Homo sapiens: one gene and its partner. The protein of the gene in region 2 purifies or fractionates together with the protein of the main gene of each other region. This does not show direct contact. Each region holds a gene or a part of one and is shown on either strand. Other genes may lie near its edges.

Evidence for each region. Proteins that work in one complex are often made in the same cells at the same time.
Region 1: the proteins of MAST3 (region 2) and ZBTB21 purify together in Homo sapiens (affinity purification with mass spectrometry, with the first as the bait; one large-scale study listed by BioGRID). This does not show direct contact.

The regions. Positions count from the first base shown.
Region 1 is NC_000021.9:41,996,861-42,000,360, reverse strand, and holds part of ZBTB21 (zinc finger and BTB domain-containing protein 21), read left to right. Parts: intron 1-3,500. UniProt on the Homo sapiens protein: Acts as a transcription repressor.
Region 2 is NC_000019.10:18,096,585-18,102,114, reverse strand, and holds the start of MAST3 (microtubule-associated serine/threonine-protein kinase 3), read right to left. Parts: upstream 4,338-5,530; 5' UTR 4,323-4,337; coding exon 4,284-4,322; intron 3,361-4,283; coding exon of another isoform or gene 3,350-3,360; exon of another isoform or gene 3,188-3,349; intron 1-3,187. Other genes in the region: IL12RB1 (interleukin-12 receptor subunit beta-1), read left to right, coding at 3,350-3,360.

The DNA.
Region 1 (3,500 bases), on a different chromosome or scaffold from region 2:
TATTTGGGAACTGATCCCAGGAAGCACAAGAAAGGAAGTAGGGACAGTAAGGCGGAGATGGAGGCTCATAAAGGGTACATTGATGAACAGGTTGCTGCTCACGTGTAGGATATCAAAACTGAATTCTTTAAAAAATCTGAACTCCTGGTTTTTCTGTCAAACCCCATCTCTCCTAAGGATGCCCTTCCAGTTATTTTGGCAGAATACTTAACTCCACACCTTCTGTTTTCTCCTGCAGTCTGTCCACTAGAAATTCTAATGACTCTGCCTTTACCTCCGTTGCTACCACCCTGGTCCCAGCCACCATCCTCTCTCATCTGGGTCATTACAGTGGACTGCAAGCTGGCCCGCAGCTTCCCCCATAACCTACCCTCTGTTGTCTAATCTCAACAACAGAGCCAGAGCAATCCTTTGGAAATGTAATTCAGGTCTTTGTCATTCCTCTGCTCAGAATCTTCAATGGCTGTCCATTTCATCCATAGTAAAAAATAAAGTTCTTCTGGAGGTCTCCCAGCCCTAGACGGTCTTACTTCTTATTGCCTCTCAGATGTCATCTTACATGGCTCCCAGCACACACTGCTCCATCCCTCCTGTTGCCTTAGCTTCTCCCTTTGTTGTGATGTTCTTCCTCCATTTATCTCCATGGCTCATCCCTCGCCTCCTTCACACCTTCTTTGATCCCATTTTGATGAATGAATGACATGAGAAGTTTCTGGTATAGTTTGTAGTGTAGGTTCCTGTACAGTTAGGTGCTATATAAATGGTAGCGACTATTATTATCTTATTTAATTCCCACAATAGCATTATGTGGTAGCTGCTAGTATTATCCTTATTTTATGGCGAGGTAAACTGAGGCTCAAAGAGGTTGGTTAGCCTAGAACAGTGGCTCTCAAAATATTTTGACTGACCCACAGGAAGGAATACATTTTACATCTCAATCCAGTCCATGCTTGCTTATGTGGGTATGTACATATATATAATAGAAACAAAAGTTTCTCAAGCTCATAATTAGCCTTATGACATTTGATGCATTCTGATATTTTCTACTCTGTCCTAGTCATTTATTTTTTAATTGCTAGTTTTAAACCACCAAGTTGAGTTTAAGAACCCCTTTTGACAAAGACTATCCAAGCCTTTAAATCTGTACCTTTAATTCTGTGTTACAGCTTTTCCCTGTGGCAACATCTGAACTAGCTTTGTCAAAAATTATTAGTGCTAAAAACTCCTCAGTACCCAGCTGAGTCAATACGTGTAACATTATAAGCTTATGTCTTTTTCTGCTGATCTCTGTAAAAGATGGTAAGGGTTTCTTCATACAAATAGATGTAAAGAAAGTATAGTAGGATTAAGGAAAATTTAAATGACTAAGAGAAGAAAAAGGAAGGGAAATTATCAAGTAGTCACAAATAGAATAATTTTTTAAAAAAATAGAGGAATTAAAATTTACCATTTACTTTGAAAGGATGGTAGGCGGGAGTGGACAGAAACTTGGTACAGTCTGACCAAAGTAGTTGTTTGTGGACAGGCTAAAGGCATCATCTCTAGAAGCAAAGTCCTGTGTCTCAGTCGGTTAAATTGAGTCGCATCTTATCAGGGAGTCAGAAGGAATTGTATACCGTGTGTGGCCACTCCCAGGTTGACAGCCTAGGAGACTCTGGGCTCTTCCTGAAGAGCCTGGTGGCTGGGGTAACCAGCAAAGGCCAGAAGAGAACCTACAAATGAGCTGGGGTCAAGTTTGGTTCATCTACAGTTTGCCCGCTAGAGAAAGATAAAACCGTCACAGATAGTTACTTGGGATTCATGTAATCTTAAAAATAAATGTCTTAACAATATTTGAAAGAAAATATGGCATTATAAAATGAAAGGGATGAGCCAGCTGTGGTGGCTCACACCTGTAATCCCAGCACTTTGGGAGGCCGAGGCAGGCAGATCACGTGAGGTCAGGAGTTCGGGACCAGTCTGGCTAATATGGTGAAACCCCAACTATATAAAAATACAAAAATTAGCTGGGCGTGGTGGTGCACGCCTGTAATCCCAGCTACTCAGGAGGCTGAGGCAGGAGAATCGTTTGAACCCAGGAGGCAGAGGTTGCAGGGAGCCAAGACTGAGTCATTGCACTCCAGCCTGGGCAACAGAGCGAGACCCTGTCTAGAAAAAAAAAAAAAAAATGAAAAGGATGAGGTGTTAGAGGAACAGAAGCCTAAATAAAGGGTCAAATACACAGAGTCAGGCATTGTCTCTGCATGAAATGGCTTTGTCTGCATCGAGAGTATGGTGGGGTTAATCTGCCCACTTTCTTTGATACTGAATTAGATGCCTATTAATCCTGCAATTTCTGAAAGTTAAGTGCACATTTGTTGAGTTTTCTTTAGATGAACTCTTTGCAACAACCCTGCAAGAGGAGGGCACAGTTGTCATTCCTAACTCAGGTGAGGGATCTGCCACACCGAGAGGCTAACAGAAACACCCAAGGACAATCAGCCAGCCTGCAAGGAACTGGCATCTCAACCCAAGTGTCTGGCACCAGAGCTTGCACTCTACCACTAGGCCTCCTCTTCTCATGTTTAGATTTGAAGAGCATTTCAGTGAAATATCAGTTTAAACTCTTTAATTAAATTTAGAACTAGGCTAAAGTTTCCTTTGTGCTATTGTTGAAAATGTGATTTGGTAAGAAAATAGTATTCATGAGATTGCAAGGCAAATAGCATAAGAAAGAAAACAAACTTATTCTTCAACACTTCTAATCTTTTTTTTGTTTTTTTGTTTTTTTGTTTTTTTTTTTTTTGAGACAACGTCTTGCTCTGTCAACCAGGCTGGAGTGCAGTGGCGCAATCTTGGCTCACTACAACCTCCACTTCCCAGGCTTAAGTGATTGTCATGCTTCAGCCTCCTGAGTAGCTGGGATTACAGGCACATGCCACCACCCTCGGCTAATTTTTGTATTTTTAGTAGAGATGGAATTTCACCATGTTGGCCAGGCTTGTCTCGAACTCCTGACCTCAAGTGACCTGCCCGCTTTGGCCTCCCAAAGTGCTGGGATTACAAGCGTGAGCCACCGTGCCTGGCGTAAACACTTTCATTAGTAATTAGCAAATAATTTTTTGCTTTCCAAATTCTTTTCTATTTTTAAAGGTCTCTTGGCCAGGCTCAGTGGTTCATGCCTGTAATCCCAACACTTGGGGAGGCTGAAGCAGGAGGATCTCTTGAGCCCACGAGTTGGAGACCAGCCTGAGCAACATAGTGAGGCCCCATTTCTAAAAATAAAAAATAAAAAAAATTACCCAGGTGTAATTAGTCCATTTTCACAATGCTAATAAAGACATACCTGAGACTGGGTAACTAACAAAGAAAAAGAGGTTCAGTGGACTCACAGGTCCATGTGACTGGGGAGGCTGTGTAATTATGGCAGAAGGCAAGGAGTGCAGGGCACATCTCACATGGTGGCAGGGAAGAGAGAACTTGTGCAGGGGAACTCCTCGTTATGAAACCATCAGCTCTCC
Region 2 (5,530 bases):
AAGTCAGCAGATGGAGACCATCCTGGCTAACACGGTGAAAGCCCGTCTCTGCTAAAAATACAAAAAATTAGCCGGGTGTGGTGGCAGGAGCCTGTAGTCCCAGCTACTCGGGAGGCTGAGGCAGGAGAATGGCATGAACCTGGGAGGTGGAATGAGCGGAGATCACGCCACTGCACTCCAGCCTGGGCGACAGAGCAAGACTCCGTCTCAAAAAAAAAAAAAAAAAAAAAAAGAGTTTGAGGCCATTCTGGCCAACATGGTGAAACACCATCTCTACTAAAAAATATAAAAATTATATTAGTCGGGTGTGGTGGCGCTCGCCTGTAATCCAGCTACTCAGGAGGCTGAGGCTGTGAGAATCGCTTGTATCCAGGTGACGGAGCCTGCAGTGAGCCAAGATGGCGCCACTGCACTCCAGCCTGGGCCACCGCACTCCAGCCTGGGCGACAGGGCAAGATCCTGTCTAAAAAAAGAGAGACTCAAAGGGAGAAGAGGGGTTGGAGGCACACAGAGAGGAGAGCTAAGGGGCTTCCTGGAGTAGGGGGTGTCAAACAAAGCCTGCAGGCACATGGAAAACACCAGTCCATGCCCAGCAAACAGCACGTGCAAAGGGAGGTGAGACTCAGCCTGCTGGGCACCAAGCCCGGTTGGAAGTTCGATGCCCCTGGAATTAAATGGGAGAGAAGTCAGCATGGACCACATGGCACCAGCCCCAGGGCTTCCAGGAGGAGGAGGAGGAGGAGGAGAAGGAGAAGGAGGAGGAGGAGGAGGAGGAGGAAAATAAGTGGAAGCTGTCCATGAGAAAGCAGGATCACCTTGGAGGGCTGAACCTAGAGGAGCCACCCCAGTAGCGGCAGAGACAAAAGTCCAGATACAGGCTCTAGCCCTTCTCTGCCGGGGGATGCTCTGTTTGTGGGACCTGGTGTTTTGAAATTCGGTCATGTGTAAAGCAAAGGTCCAAGTAGGAGATGATAAATGTAATAAGATAATAGTAGTAGTAGTAATAACAGCTCACGTTACCCGGTGCCTGCACACGTTATGCGTGAGGCTGAGTTTAACCCAAATTGGGAAGGTCTCCACCTCCTCCCTGGACCCAGGGCTGTCGCAAACTGGCCGCCCGCGGGCCAGGCCGGATCCTTTTTCAGACCTTTCCTGCACACAGCCAACAGCACGCCTCACATTGTCACCACCGGAGAGGACGCCCTGGGCTATGCGTCTGGATTGGCCGGTCAGCACCCGTTTGTGAATGGACTCTTTGGCCTTTGGCCTCCAGGAAATCTGATTGGCTCGCATCAGCGATCTACCCCCTGATTGGCTGGGGTGCTCCTGGACCATTAACAAGGTTTCCAGTCAAAAGAGACCCCAAACTGGGGCTGATGAAGACAACACCTTCACGTGCCAGATTGGTTAGAATTTCTCTGGCTTCCTGGTGGGTACTTCCCTCTTTGGGCCTCAGTTTCTTCCTTTGAAAAGTGGAACTAATAATAGCACTGACCACTCGGGCTGTTGGGAGAATTGAATGCATGAGAGGGCTTAGCCTGTTAATATGAACGGTTATTCCCACTTTACTATTATTTTATTATTATTTTAATCTTCTTCCACTTGGACCTTTATTTTTATTTTTGAGATAGGGTCTCGTGATCATGGCTCACTATAGCCTCAAACTCCTGGGCTCAAGAGATCCTTCTTGGCTGGGCGCGGTGGCTCACGCCTGTAATTCTAGCACTTTGGGAGGCCGAGGTGGGCGGATCACCTGAGATCAGGAGTTTGATACCAGCCTGGCCAACATGGCGAAACCCCGTCTCTACTAAAAATACAAAAATTAGCCGGGCGTGGTGACATGTGCCTGTAATCCCAGCTACTCGGGAGGCTGAGGCAGGGAGAATTACTTGAACCCGGGAGGTGGAGGTTGCAGTGAGCCGAGATTGCGCCACTGGACTCCAGCCTGGGTAACAGAGCATGATTCTTTCTCAAAAAAAAAAAAAAGAGAGAGAGAGAGAGATCCTTCTGCCTCAGCCTCCTTGAGTAGCTGGGACTACAGTCATGAGCCACCACACCTGGTACACTTAGACTTTCATTCCATGCTCCTTCCTGGCTTCCTGCCCTTTTTGATTCCCCCACTCCTGCTCCTAGCCCTCCAGAGGAGTCTTCCCAGCCCCTCAATATGGGCATGTCCTCTCCTGCTCCAGCACCTTCCATAGCTCCCCATCACCCTAGGGGGAAAGTCTAACCTCTTCAAAATCAGCACTGAAGGCCCTGGAAGCATTAAGTCCTGGCCATCAGCCTCTAGTGCTAAGAAATAGGTTCAAGTTCTTGTTTCCCCATATAAACAGGTAAGAAAGGCTACATGCCTCTGGGCCTTTGCACGTGCTGTGGCCTCTGCCCGGAATGCCCTCATTCAGTCGGGGAATCCGTGCTCATCCCTCCACCTTCGTGGAGGGACGCCTGTGCTGGGTTGGTTTGGAGAGGAAGCCGGAACTGCGTGGGTTCAAATCCTGTCTGACTCTGTCACCTATACTTTGTGAAACCCGGACAGTGGCTATGCTTCTCTGAACCTCAGTTTCCCCTTTTGTAACATAGAACTTACCATCAGGAAATGTTTGACCCCCCCACCATGGAACAGGCCCCACTTCTTGACGTCAGCAGCACCCCCATTCGCCTACCCGGAGGCGGTTTCTCTATTTTAAGAGGCTGCGGGCGGGTTGGCATCTAACTGGGGCTGGAGGCGGGACTGCCCCCCCACCAACACCACGCTGCTCGCCAATCCCGCCCCGCCCCCTCCTTTCCGCCCAAGTCCCCCACTCTTGCCTCTGGCCTCAGCGCCTCCAGTTCTGCCCCACCCCCGCGCGGCCAGAGACCGGGTGTCTCTGATCTGCAGCTCAGCCCGTGCCTTCCCTGACCACTCCCGACCTGGCTTCCCATCACCTGCTGAGTTCGCAGTCCCGCAGCTACCGGTGCGGCTCCAGGTTGGAGACCCGCCGGCCCCATTCCTCTCACCCCCTCAACCCGCCCGGAGCTAACCTCAGTCCCCGACCCCCACCCCACCTGCTCAGTCCTCCCTAGGTTCCAGCTTCTGTCAACCTCTTTCATTTCCCTAAATACCGCCCCCCGCTGCAATGCCTCGCCACCCTTGGCTGCCTCCTCTACCCCAGGGCTCCCAGCAATGACTGGGTCAGGCGCCTCCTTCACTTGCTGTGAGTCCCTTATCACAACTGATCACTCCGTGGGGTCACCGCTGCTCTGGCGTCTACCTCCCCCAACAGGTTGGGGTTTCTAGGAGGGCAGCTCCAGAGGTTGCAGAACACTCCGCTGCCTCTCCAGAGCCAGGCACACAGCAGGCGCTCCATAAATGTTCGTTGGGTAAGTGCTGAATCCCAGGTTCCCTACCTGAAAACTTGGTGGCTTCTTAAGGGTGTGGTCTAAGTCCCAGAGGAAAATGGCCAAATCTTAATTCCTGTTTTTCTTTTCTTATAATGGGGACACTGAGGCCCAGAGAAGTCAAAGGGTGGCTGCCCGGGGTCATGTAGTCCCTGTGTGGCTTCAAACTTAGGCTTCTGCTGTCCCCGACGCCTGTGTCCCTACCTCCTGATGACACAGCCTCCTAAACATAAACTCAGTAAAAGGAGGACCCTATGGCTCATTGGAAAACTGAGGCCCAGAGAAGCAAGGGTGCCCTCCCCCCAGGTCACACTGCTGGTTGGCAGCGCCTTGTGCCGTAAGAGAGCTGGTTGAGGGCGCAGATCGAATCCCAGCTAGGCGACCTCTGGAGAGTGGCTTTCCGGGACTAGAGCCTCAGTTTCCTTATTCTGACAAATGGGCGCCTGACAGCCCCAACCTCCCCAGGTCGTCGTAGGGCTGAGCTGAGGGTGTACAGTGGTGCAGCGACGACCCAAGGAGGTATTAATACATATGAACTCATATTAATACATCGCTAGTAATAGGACTAAAACAACCATGAACATATGGTGAGCTCTCTGGCTGCTGTTGCTAGCATTATTATTAGAACAGCTGGTGGGGAGGGGCAGAGCCCTCAGCCTCTTCCTCCCACGCCATCGCTTGGAGCCTCAGTTTCCCTAGATGTCCAAGGGGGCACCTTCCCCCTTCCCACCATGAGAAAAAGCACTTTGAGAAGCGGGTGGTCAAAAAGAAGCGATCTGAGCGTTCCCCACCCTCTGCCTCAGTTTCCCTACAGCCCGTGAAGGCCCCGCCCCTCCCGGCACCTTTCAGGCCGCGTCCACTTGGCCGCGCCCTCTGCCTTCCGCCCGCCCGCGCAGGGGCCTCACCTGGAGCCCGCGGCGCCGCAGGAGGCTCGACTCGTCCATGGCCCGGGAGTCCGCGCCGCCAGGCCCGCCCCCGGCCCCGCCCCGGCCTGCCAGGCCCCGCCGCCAGGTGCCATTGGCCAGGCCGGTCAGCTGACACGGCCTGGCCCCGCCCCTCCCGGGGAGCCCGACCACAGGGCCCCGCCCCCACTGGGCGAGCTGGCCCCGCCCCTCCAGCAGAGCGCAGAAGTAAATATTTTGCATGAATCCTCTCAGAAGTAAGGCAGCATCGTTCAGCCCCATTTTGCAGATGAAGAAACTGAGGCTAAGATAGGTTAATCAATATGCCCAGCGCATTGGCCGGGCGCAGTGGCTCACGCCTGTATCCCAGCACTTTGGGAGGCCGAGGTGGGCAGATCACTTGAGGTCAGGAGTTCGAGATCACCCTGGCCAACATGGTGAAACCCTGTCTCTACTAAACAAAAAAAACCAAAACAAAACAAAAAAAAAATTACTTGGGGGTGGTGACGCGCGCCTGTAATCCCAGCTACTCAGAAGACTGAGGCAGGAGAATCGCTTGAATCCAAGAGGCGGAGGTTACAGTGAGCCGGGATAGCGCCGCTGCACTCCAGACTGGGCGACAGAGCGAGACTCTGTCTCAAAAACAAAAACAAAACAACAACAAAAAATGTGCCCAGTACACACAGCAGAACGGGTTCTAGGGTGAGGCGAGTGAGGATCTCACCCCTGTGCAAAATTTAAGGTGGCCCCACAAAACTCAGCCATCAAGAGAAATAATATTTTAAAAACATAAAATTAATGAAAACATTTATGATGAACAAAACATCAAAACTTTTATTTTTTATTTTATTTTTAGAGACGGGGATCTCACTATGTTGCCCAGGCTGGTCTTGAACTCCTGGCCTCAAAAGATCCTTCTGCCTAGGCCTCCCAAAGTGTTGGGATTACAGGTGTCAGCCACCGCATATGGCCAAAACACCAAAACTTTTTTTTTTTTTTTTTAATTTATGAGACGAGTCTCTCTGTTGCCCAGACTAGAATGCAGTGGCATGATCTCGGCAACCCCTGCCTCCTGGGTTCAAGCTATTCTCATGCCTCAGCCTCCCTAGTAGCTGGGACTACAGGTGCCCACCACCACACCAGGCTGATTTTTTGTATTTTTGGTAGAGATGAGGTCTCACCATGTTGGCCAGGCTTGTCTCGAACTCCTGGCCTCAGGTGATTCACCCACCTTAGCCTCCCAAAGTTCT